3 linked regions of the Homo sapiens genome follow. The protein of the gene in region 2 interacts with the protein of the main gene of each other region in a biochemical or structural test. Each region holds a gene or a part of one and is shown on either strand. Other genes may lie near its edges.

Evidence for each region.
Region 1: the proteins of EHMT2 (region 2) and CDYL form a complex in vitro, tested with the Homo sapiens proteins (one study listed by BioGRID).
Region 3: the proteins of EHMT2 (region 2) and ACSM3 are reported together in a solved structure, tested with the Homo sapiens proteins (one study listed by BioGRID).

What each region holds. Positions count from the first base shown.
Region 1 is NC_000006.12:4,782,787-4,786,438, reverse strand, and holds part of CDYL (chromodomain Y-like protein), read right to left. Parts: intron 1-3,652.
Region 2 is NC_000006.12:31,884,141-31,887,792, reverse strand, and holds part of EHMT2 (histone-lysine N-methyltransferase EHMT2), read left to right. Parts: coding exon 1-14; intron 15-133; coding exon 134-216; intron 217-691; coding exon 692-798; intron 799-895; coding exon 896-1,018; intron 1,019-1,110; coding exon 1,111-1,212; intron 1,213-2,737; coding exon of another isoform or gene 2,738-2,776; coding exon 2,777-2,881; coding exon of another isoform or gene 2,882-2,902; intron 2,903-2,993; coding exon 2,994-3,148; intron 3,149-3,233; coding exon 3,234-3,401; intron 3,402-3,588; exon of another isoform or gene 3,589-3,652. UniProt on the Homo sapiens protein: Histone methyltransferase that specifically mono- and dimethylates 'Lys-9' of histone H3 (H3K9me1 and H3K9me2, respectively) in euchromatin.
Region 3 is NC_000016.10:20,770,431-20,774,082, reverse strand, and holds part of ACSM3 (acyl-coenzyme A synthetase ACSM3, mitochondrial), read right to left. Parts: intron 1-3,652. UniProt on the Homo sapiens protein: Catalyzes the activation of fatty acids by CoA to produce an acyl-CoA, the first step in fatty acid metabolism. Capable of activating medium-chain fatty acids with a preference for isobutyrate among fatty acids with 2-6 carbon atoms.

The sequences.
Region 1 (3,652 bases), about 27 Mb from region 2:
GAAGGTAACACAGTCCGTCTCTGCTTCTGAAGCCAGAGTACACACACACAGCAAGAGACCAAGGGCACACAGGGCCACTAATCCACAGCTCAGCTTCCTGAAACATCAGCCTAAATCAAGGATCTCTGGAGAAGAGCTCCTTGGTAAATATGTTTAAAATATTTCATATTGAATCCCAAAAATTGTATGGACTACATGGTTAATATCATAAAACATGTAAGGTAACTTGAGATTTCAAACAACAGGTCAGGCTTGCAAAGGCCATTTCCTCCTCCCTCCCACCTCCACCTCCTTAGGAGAATTCCTGCTGACTCCTCTGCCGTCTGGAGAACTTGGGTGGAAATGACCATAAAATTTATGTTTAAGTTTACCATAAAAGTAGACTTAATTTTTTCGCTTACACTTACATAGCAACACTTTTTAAAAACTCTTCTTGATAGCTCTTTGCAACATATGCCTTTTCTTTCATAAGCATGCCCTTCACTTGCTCTAAGGGGCGCAGGACTGGCCCCACGGAGCCTGTCACCTCAAGACTTGGAGTGCCATCACCAGCTACCCTCTTCAGCGAACTTCATGAACAAACTTATTAACGTCAATTCACCTGCCTCTGGCAGAGCCTTTTCCTTTACCAAATAACCTGTTTCTAACATGCTAAAGGTGCCAGTCAAGTCCAAGTACATAATGCCTAAAGGAAATGTCAACAGTCTCCAAGAGAGACCCAGAGCTGTTGTCCAGTGTGCATGGGGTGGTGCATCTTTTTGCAAACTAAGATGACTTTTTTTGTCCTGGTTCTGAGATACACTAAAGAGCTGGGATATCCACATTAGTTACATGCTATTAATAAAATAAGAAAAGCTTCTGTGTGCAACTATGTGATGCCTTGAATTCCTAAACAGTAAACTACTAATGAAAAATGGGTACAAGTGAAAAACGGATACATTTTAACCAAAGAACATTCATGATGTGCAGTCAACATTGTTGGGTTTTAACAACAAACACTAGGAAGCTACCAACAAAGAAAACTTCACATAGCAGAGAGCCTACTACAAATGGAAATAAGACAAAAAGTAAATAAAAGACATTCTCTAGATATATTGAAGCTAACCTCTCCACAAAAAAGAAAGTATACTATACGGTCACACGTTGCTTAACTACAGTGATATGTTCTCAGAAATGCGTTGTTAGGCAATTTCACTGCTGTGCGAACCTCACAGAGTGAACTTACACAAACATCAATGTTGTAGCCTACTACACACCTAGGCTGTATGGTAGAGCCTATTGCTTCCAGGCTACAGACCTGTACAGATGTTACTGTACTGAACACTGTAGGCAATTTTAACACAATAGTGAGGACTTGTGTATTAGTCCATTCTCACATTGCTAATAAAGACATACCCGAGACCGGGTAATTTATAAAGGAAACGAGTTTAATTAACTCAGTTCCACATGGCTGGGGGGGCCTCACAATCATGGAGGAAGGTGAATGAGGAGCAAGGTCACACGTTACATGGTGGCAGGCAAGAGAGCTTGTGCAGGGGAACTCCTTTTTATCAAACCATGAGATCTCATGAGACTCACTATCAGGAGAACAGCAAGGGAAAGATCCACCCCACGATTCAACTACCTCCCACAGGGTCCCTCCCATGGTACGTGGGAATTATGGGAGCTACAATTCCAAATGAGATCTGGGTGAGGACACAGCCAAACCATATCAACTTGTGTATCTAAACATAGAAAAGGTACAGTAAAAATGTGGTATTATAATCTTACGGGACCACCATCGTAAGACCAAAGTATCATTATGTGGTACAAGACTATATATCAAGGCATGCCGAACAAAGACATTGAACATTTTGCTTCAGAAGCAATTGCGTTATAACTATTATAATCCATTTTCATAAACAGTCCTCTTGAAAACTACTGTTTTGCATTTTCAATATCATCAGGTAAATCTCAAGTGTTGGTTCAAAGCCTCAATCCCTGCTCATGTCACAAATTCCAAATCAAGAAGGTTTCTTCAGATTCTGGCAATAAAGCAAACATGACTCCAAAGGGCCCTCTCATTACAAATTAACTAGATCTTTAATAAAATATAACTCTCATTAACAGTGATACCATATAGCAATTGTAGGAAACAAGGAAAATATCCCAGCTGCCTCAGTAACTGCCCCCAACCCAAAATAATGACTAAATCATAAAATGGACAAACACCAAAGACTTAAAAAACGAATTGCAGATTAGGTAAAAACTCCCCAGAATATTTCGAAGTAAAAAATGTAATTATTGAAAATTAAAACTCAATGGTTGAATAAAACAGCAGATTAAACACAGCTCATTAGTGAACTATAGTTTAGATCCAAGGAAATAGCTAAAATGCAGCACATAAAAAGAAAACAAAACACAAACAAGGAGATGGAAATGAAAAGGTAAAAGACAAAGAAGAGAGAATGAAATGATCTGATAGATGTCTACTTGGAATTCCTGACGAGTACAGAGAAGGAGTATTTGAAGACAAACTGGCCAAATCCATTTTCGAGCTGATGAGGCACAAATCCAAAAAGCAGCACAACATATACCCACCTAACTAATAAAAAATCACACAAAATACATTGTCGTATTAAACAAGAGGAAACCAAAGTCAAAGAGATGATCTCAAGAACAACCAGAGACAGAAGACAGATCTCCTATAAAGTGACTGCACCTATGCTGACAACAGTCTTGGCCAGGTGCAGTGTGGCTCACACCTGTAATCCAAGCACTCTGGGAGGCTGAGGCGGGTGGATCACTTGATGTCAGGAGTTCGAGACTAGCCTGACCAACATGGTGAAACCCCATCTCTACTAAAAATACAAAAAATAGCCAGGCATGGTGGTGCATGCCCATAATCCCAGCTACTTGAAAGGCTGAGGCAGGAGAATCACTTGAACCAGTGAGGCAGAGGCTACAGTAAGCCAAGATCATGCCACTGCACTCCAGCCTGGGCGACAAGAGTGAAACGCCACCTCAAAAAAAAAAAAAAAAGTCTCAAGAATAGTGCAAAGGCAAGGCAGAAGACAATGGAGCACCATCTTCAGAAGGAGCTGAAAGAAATTAACCAATTAACTGGTTTTATTTGAAATACTATTCTCTTTCAAAAAATGATGGCAAAATAAAGACATGTCCAGATAATAATAATTAAAAAAAAAAAACCTAGAAACTTTTCCATCCATAGTCCCTCACTAAAGAAATCTCTAAAGGATACACTTAAGAAAAAAAAAAATCCCAGAAGGAAGTTCTGAGATAGAAGATGGACGATCTGATTGAAGAAACTATGAAGTCAGAGGTGAATCTAAAGAAAGGTTGTATAAAATAATAATGTTCTATTTGATGAGGGATTTTTTCATGGGCAATAAGAAAGCAGTAGCATGTGAGTTCAGGAATGCACCAGGGTTCAAGGAATGTAAAATCTTTACATTGTCAGAAGTGCCATTAAATACTGACTATCTTTAGACATCATGTATGCATAGCTGCAAAATTAGCCACTTAAAGACTAGAAATAGCATACAACTTCTAAACCCAATCAGTGAGGTTTTAATATGGTTTTACTGTAATTTGTGGCAGAGGACAGTTCAACAAAAATAATGTCAAAGTGGTCCGTGGAGGGCAGCCACAG
Region 2 (3,652 bases):
CAGGAGTCAGAGAGGTGAGTGGGGAGTTGCTCAGGCACAGCAACTGGGGCTGAGGCCAGAGGAGTGGTGTCGAGGCTGATGCTGGAATCTGAGGAGCTCCCCTTCTCTCCCCGCTCCCGTGCTCCCTTGGCAGGCGGAAGAAGCTCCGTTTCCACCCTCGGCAGTTGTACCTGTCCGTGAAGCAGGGCGAGCTGCAGAAGGTGATCCTGATGCTGTGTGAGTGCCACCCATTCCTTCAGCAGACCTTGACCAAGCTTCATGTATATACCAGGCACTGGGTACAGGGCCAGGAGTACAGTCGTGAAGGACACAGTCCTTGCCCTGAAGGACTTAGTGTGGTGGGGAAAAGACACATGTAACCCATAACGATGGGGATGTGGTGACTCATAGGTGCTGGGTCCTGTTCTGAGTGCTTATACCTGTTAGCCTTGGCTTGCACAGAGAGGTTAGGGACCTTGCACAGTGCACAGTGGTACTGAGAAGCAAGGCAGGGTTTGAATTCAGGCAGAGCTGATGCCTTTGACTCCTTATTCTGATAAATGCTGTGGTGGAGGCAAGCTCGGAGAATGCCAGGAGGGGCCCTGATCCAGCTTGGGGCCCTGAGAAGCCTTCCTGAAAGAAGTGCCACCTGCCCCCTAGCTTGCTTACCACTTGTCCCTCCCTCTCCCGGTGTGGCGGGCTCTCCCCGCAGTGGACAACCTGGACCCCAACTTCCAGAGCGACCAGCAGAGCAAGCGCACGCCCCTGCATGCAGCCGCCCAGAAGGGCTCCGTGGAGATCTGCCATGTGCTGCTGCAGGTCAGCACGGGCCCGGCCCCATGCCTCATTCACCAGGCCCTTAGGCCCCTCCCCTGCCCCATGCCTCCCTGGTGCCAGCCCTCCTGCCCCCTCACAGGCTGGAGCCAACATAAATGCAGTGGACAAACAGCAGCGGACGCCACTGATGGAGGCCGTGGTGAACAACCACCTGGAGGTAGCCCGTTACATGGTGCAGCGTGGTGGCTGTGTCTATAGCAAGGTGTGCGCGCAGGCAGCAGGGCGTGGCCCCCGGAGTCAGGGACCAGGTTTGGGGTGCCAGCCCAAAGGCTCATTTGCCCGTGTCTCCCTCAGGAGGAGGACGGTTCCACCTGCCTCCACCACGCAGCCAAAATCGGGAACTTGGAGATGGTCAGCCTGCTGCTGAGCACAGGACAGGTGGACGTCAACGCCCAGGTCAGCGGCCCACCCAGCCCAGCCCCTCTGGGTCCCTGGTGCCTGGGTTCCTTGGCTTGGCCTCAGGCTTTGGGCCGCCTTTCCTACATCTGACCTCACACTGCTCGTGTCTGTCCTCATTGCTTTCTTCTTCCTCATTTGTATTTCTCTTCATTCTTTTCTTTCTCGTTTCTTTCTCTTTATCAAGTTTCAGAATAATCAGTTCCTGTCTTAATCTCTGAAAGTGTCCAGTGAGGCTTTTTATTAACTCTTGGGTTGTCATACATTGGATGTGTTTTAGTCATTTATTGGCATTCTTCTCAGTCTTTGAATTATTCCATCATTGTCCAGAAGAAGCCCCTTTAAGAGGCCTCTGTGGCTGTGACATGACCCAGTGGCCCAGTGGCCTTTGAGAGCCTCCTGACCTTTCAGCACATTTCCTGCCCCCAACTCAGAATCCACCATTTCTCTAAGAAACTCTGCTTCCTTTATGGGAAACTTTTTTTTTTTTTTTTGAGACGGAGTCTCACTCTGTTGCCCAGGCTGGAGTGCAATGGCGTGATCACAGCTTACTGCAAGCTCCGCCTCCCAGGTTCACGCCATTCTCCTGCCTCAGCCTCCCGAGTAGCTGGGATTACAGGCGCCCACCACCATGCCCGGCTAATTTTTGTATTTTTAGTAGAGACGGGGTTTCACCATATTGGCCAGGCTGATCTTGAACTCCTGACCTCGTGAGCCACAGCGCCCGGCCAGAAGCATTTTTTAGAGAATACAATCTATGTTCCTAGGAGTGTTTATTGTTATTGGGTTGTCGCTGCTTCTAGGACTTTTGAGTGGGCAGACTTAGGAAATTTTTGTTCGTTTTTTCTTTTAAGAGACAGGGTCTTGCTATGTCACCCAGGCTGAAGTACAGTAGCAGTTCACAGACAGTCATAGCTCTCTGCAGCCTCGAAATCCTGGGCTCAAGCAACCCTCCCATCTCAGTCACATGAGTAGCTGGGACTACAGGCATGCACCTCCATGACCAGCTCCTGGCTGTATTTTTTGGAAAGAGAACAATTACTTTATTTTCTCTCTGGCATCAGATGGTAGACGCTACTAGTCCCATTTTTGTTTGTTTGTTTTTTGAGACGGAGTCTTGCTCTGTCGCCCAGGCTGGAGTGCAGTGGCACGATCTTGGCTCACTGCAAGCTCCGCCTCCCGGGTTCACGCCATTCTGCCTCAGCCTCCCTAGTAGCTGGGACTACAGGCGCCTGCCACCACGCCCAGCTAATTTTTTCTATTTTTTAGTAGAGACAGGGTTTCACCGTGTTGGCCACAATGGCCTCCATCTCCTGACCTCGTGATCCGCCCGCCTCGGCCTCCCAAAGTGCTGGGATTACAGGCATGAGCCACCGCGCCCGACCCTACTAGTCCCATTTTTTAGATGAAGAAACTGCGACCCAGAGACGTTAAGTGACTTACCCAGGGTCCCACAGCTTGTGAATGGTGGAGCTGGGATTCACACACACAGCCAATCTTGACCATTTGCTGCTTTGGTGAGCAGGGCCAGCTGCCCCCACCCTCACTCCCTTCCCACCCACAGGACAGTGGGGGGTGGACGCCCATCATCTGGGCTGCAGAGCACAAGCACATCGAGGTGATCCGCATGCTACTGACGCGGGGCGCCGACGTCACCCTCACTGACAACGTGAGTGAGCGTTTGGTTGAGGTAGGGCAGCCCCAGGCCCCTGAGCAAGGTGGAGGCTGGATTCAAGGGCCCAGCTGCCTGCACCTCATCTGTTCCCCTCCTACCTCCACAGGAGGAGAACATCTGCCTGCACTGGGCCTCCTTCACGGGCAGCGCCGCCATCGCCGAAGTCCTTCTGAATGCGCGCTGTGACCTCCATGCTGTCAACTACCATGGGGACACCCCCCTGCACATCGCAGCTCGGGAGAGCTACCATGACTGCGTGCTGTGAGCCCCTGCCCCGCCCTTGATGCCCCTGCCCCCACTTCTTGCAGCCTCAGACCCTGCATTGGGCATCCTGTCCCCTCTTCAGGTTATTCCTGTCACGTGGGGCCAACCCTGAGCTGCGGAACAAAGAGGGGGACACAGCATGGGACCTGACTCCCGAGCGCTCCGACGTGTGGTTTGCGCTTCAACTCAACCGCAAGCTCCGACTTGGGGTGGGAAATCGGGCCATCCGCACAGAGAAGATCATCTGCCGGTGAGCCCTGGGCCCCTCTCTGCACCCAAGACCACCTCCTCCCCACCCATACCCTCCCCAGGCTCCATTGCATCCTCACAACATTCCCCAACCCCTCCCCATGCACCACTGAATCCCCAGAACCACCCACAGGCCCCCTCCCCACTAGGGTTGCCAGATACAGCAAATAAAAATAGAAGACACCCAGTTAAACTGGAATTTCAGATGCACAGATGCATACTTTTTTAGTGTGAGAATGTCCTGTGTAATTT
Region 3 (3,652 bases), on a different chromosome or scaffold from region 2:
CAGCAAGAGGATATAACAATTGTAAATATATACGCACCCAACATCAGTGCACCTGGATATATAAAGCAAATATCATTAGATGTAAACAGATAGACTCCAATACAACAATGTTCAGGACTTTAACACTCTACCCTCAGCATTAGACGGATCATCTAGACAGAAAATTAACAAAGAAACATTGGATTTATACTGCACTTTGGACCAAATGGACCTCGCAGATATTTACACAACATTTTATCCAACAGCTACAGAATACACATTCTTCTTCTCATCAGCACATGGCACATTCTCCAGAATAGACCATATGTTAGGGCACAAAACAAATTTCAACAAATTCTTAAAAATTGAAATCATACCAGGTATGTTCTTAGACCACAATGGAATAAAACTAGAAATCAGTAACAAGAGGAACTTTGGAAAACTGTACAAATACATGGAAATTAAACAACATGCTCCTGAATGACCAGTGAGTCAATGATGAAATTGAGAAGGAAAGCAAAAAATGTCTTGAAAATAATGAAAATGGAAGCATAATATATCAAAATCAATGAAATAAAGCAAACACAGTGTTAAGAAGGGAAGTTTATAGCCATAAACACCTATATCAAACAAGCAGAAAGATTTCAAATAAACAATCTAAGAATGCACCTCAAGGAACCAGAAAAGCAAGAACAAACTAAATCCAAAATTAGTAGAAAGAAAGAAATAATAAAGATCAGAGCAGAAATAAATGAAATTGAGGCAAAATTATAAAAGATCAACAAAACAAAATTTTTTGAGGAAAAACAAAATAGACAAATCTTTAGCTAGATTAAGAAAAAAAGAGAAGACCCAAATAAATAAAATCAGAAATGAAAAAGGAGACATTACAACTGTACCACAGAAATACAAAAGATCATTAAAGACTCTTATGAACAACTATATGCCAACAAATTGGAAAACATAGAGGAAATGGATAAATTCCTGGACACACATAACCTACCAAGATAGAAAACCTGAATAGACCAATAATATGTAATGAGATTGAATCAGTAATAAAAAAAGCCCAGAATTGGATGGTTTTACTGCTGAATTCTACCATAAGAACTAACACTAAATCTTTTTTTTTTTTTTTTGAGAGGGAGTCTCACTCTTGTCACCTAGGCTGGAGTGCAATGGTGTGATCTCAGTTCACTGCAACCTCCACCTCCCAGATTAAAGTGATTCTCCTCCCTTAGCCTCCCTAGTAGCTGGGATTACAGGCATGCACCACCATGCCCGGCTAATTTTTGTATTTTTAGTAGAGACACCACACTTCCTAACTTCAAATCATACTACAGAGCTATAGTAACCAAAACAGCATGGTATTGGCATAAAAACAGATGCATAGACCAATGAAACAGAATAGATAACCCAGAACTAAACCCACACATTTACATTCAACAGATTTTCAACAAAGGTGCCAAGAACATACACTGAGGAAAGGATATCCTCTTCAGTACATGGTCCGAGGAAAAGTGGTAATCATATGTGGTAGACTAAGACTAGAGCCCTCTCTCTCACCATATACAAAAATCAACTCGAACTGGATTATAGACTTAAATGTAAGACTCAAAACTATAAAACAACCGAAGAAAATATAGTGTAAATGCTTCAAGTCATTGATCAAGGCAAATGTTTTATTTTTTATTTTAATTTTAATTTTTAAAATTTTTTAAATTTTATAATAAATTTAATAAAATTGGGCAGATCCTGAGCCAGAGTAGGCTCTGAGACTCCCCTAGGCAAATATTTTAGGGATAAGGATATGAAAACACAGGCAACAAAACCAAAAACAGACAAATGGGACTATACAAAGCTAAAAAGCTTCTGGACAGTAAAGGAAGCAATCAACAGAGAGAAGAGACAAGATGTAGAATGGGAGAAAATATTTGTGAACTATTCACCTGACAAGGAATTAATATCCAGAATATACAGGGAATGCAAATAACCCAACAGCAAAACAAAACAAAACAAAACAAATAATTCAATTAAAAAATGGACATAGAATCTGAATAGACATTTCTCAAAAGACATACTAATTGGCAGCAAGTATATGAAAAAATGCTCAACATCATTAATCATCAGGATAATTCAAATCAAAACCATGATGAGATATGATCTTACCCCAGTTAGAATGGCTATTGTCAAAAAGACAAAAGATAACAAATGCTTGAGAGGATGTGGAGAAAAGGGAACTCTGAAACACTATTGGTGAGAATATAAATTAGTACAGCCATTGCAGAAAACAATATAAGGGCCTCTCAAAAAACTAAAAATAAAACTACCATATGATTTAGCAGTCTCACCACTGGGTATTTTTTCAAAGGAAAGGAAATCAGTCTATTGAAGAGATATCTGCACTGCCATGTTTATTGCAGCACTGTACATAATAGCCAAGATATGGAATCAACCTAAATGTCTATCAAGAGATGAATGGATAAAGAAAATGTGGTATATATACACAGTGCAATACTATTCAGCCATAAAAAAGAATGAAATTCTGTTATTTGTGGCAACATGTATGAACTTGGAGGACATTATGTTAAGTGAAATAAGTCAGACACGGAAAGATAAATGCCACATGTTCTTACTCATATGTGGGAGCTTAAAAAAATGAGCTTCACTGAACTTCAGCCTGGGCAACAAAGTAAGACCCTGTCTCTTAAAAAAAAAAAAAAAAAAAAAAAAAAGGAGCTCGGCCTGGCGTGGTGGGTGGCTCACGCCTGTAATCCCAGTGCTTTGGGAGGCCAAGGTGGGCGGATCACTTGAGACCAGGAGTTCAAGGTCAGCCTGGCCAACATGGCAAAACCCTGTCTCTACTAAAAATACAAAAATTAGCCGGCATGGTGGCAGGTGCCTGTAGTCCCGGCTACTCGGGAGGCTGAGGCACAAGAATTGCTTGAACTCATGAGGCGGAGGTTGCAGTGGGCTGAGATCACACCACCGCACTCCAGCCTGAAAAGAGCTCATAGAAGTAGGGAGTGGAATTGTGGCTATTAGAGGCTAGGAACGGTAGTGGGGAGAGGAGCATAGAAAGAGGTTGGTTAATGGATGCAAAATTATAGCTAGATGGATGGAATAAGTTCTAGTGTTCTATAGCACTGTAGAGTGAAAACAGTTAAGAATAATATATTGAGTATGTTCAAAAAGCTAGGAGAGAGGATTTTGAATGCTCCCAGCACAAAGAAATGATGCATGTTTGGGATGATGGGTAGCCTAATTACCCTCATTTGATCACTACACATTTTATACATGTATCAAAAATATCTTTGTACCCCATAACTATGTATAGTTATTACATAACTAAACATAACAGGAAAAATAATAACTTTGGGGTCCTTATTTCTAGACGTTGGAAGCCATGTCATTTCTTTTGGCCCAAATCATTTCCCATTTAGCCTGATCATTTTTCTTTCCAATAAGTGAGAATTCTTGCATCCTTTACATTTTCCCCAAAGATTTATCTGTGCCTCCTTTTCTACCATTTCTGACTCTTGGAATTACTTTTCACTCTTCTCCTTTTTTTTTTTTAAGTCAACCTAGAATTCTACATTTATGTAATACAGGGTCTCTCAACTAACCATGGAACTATTGACATTTCGGGTCAAATAATTCTTTGTTCTGGAGGCTG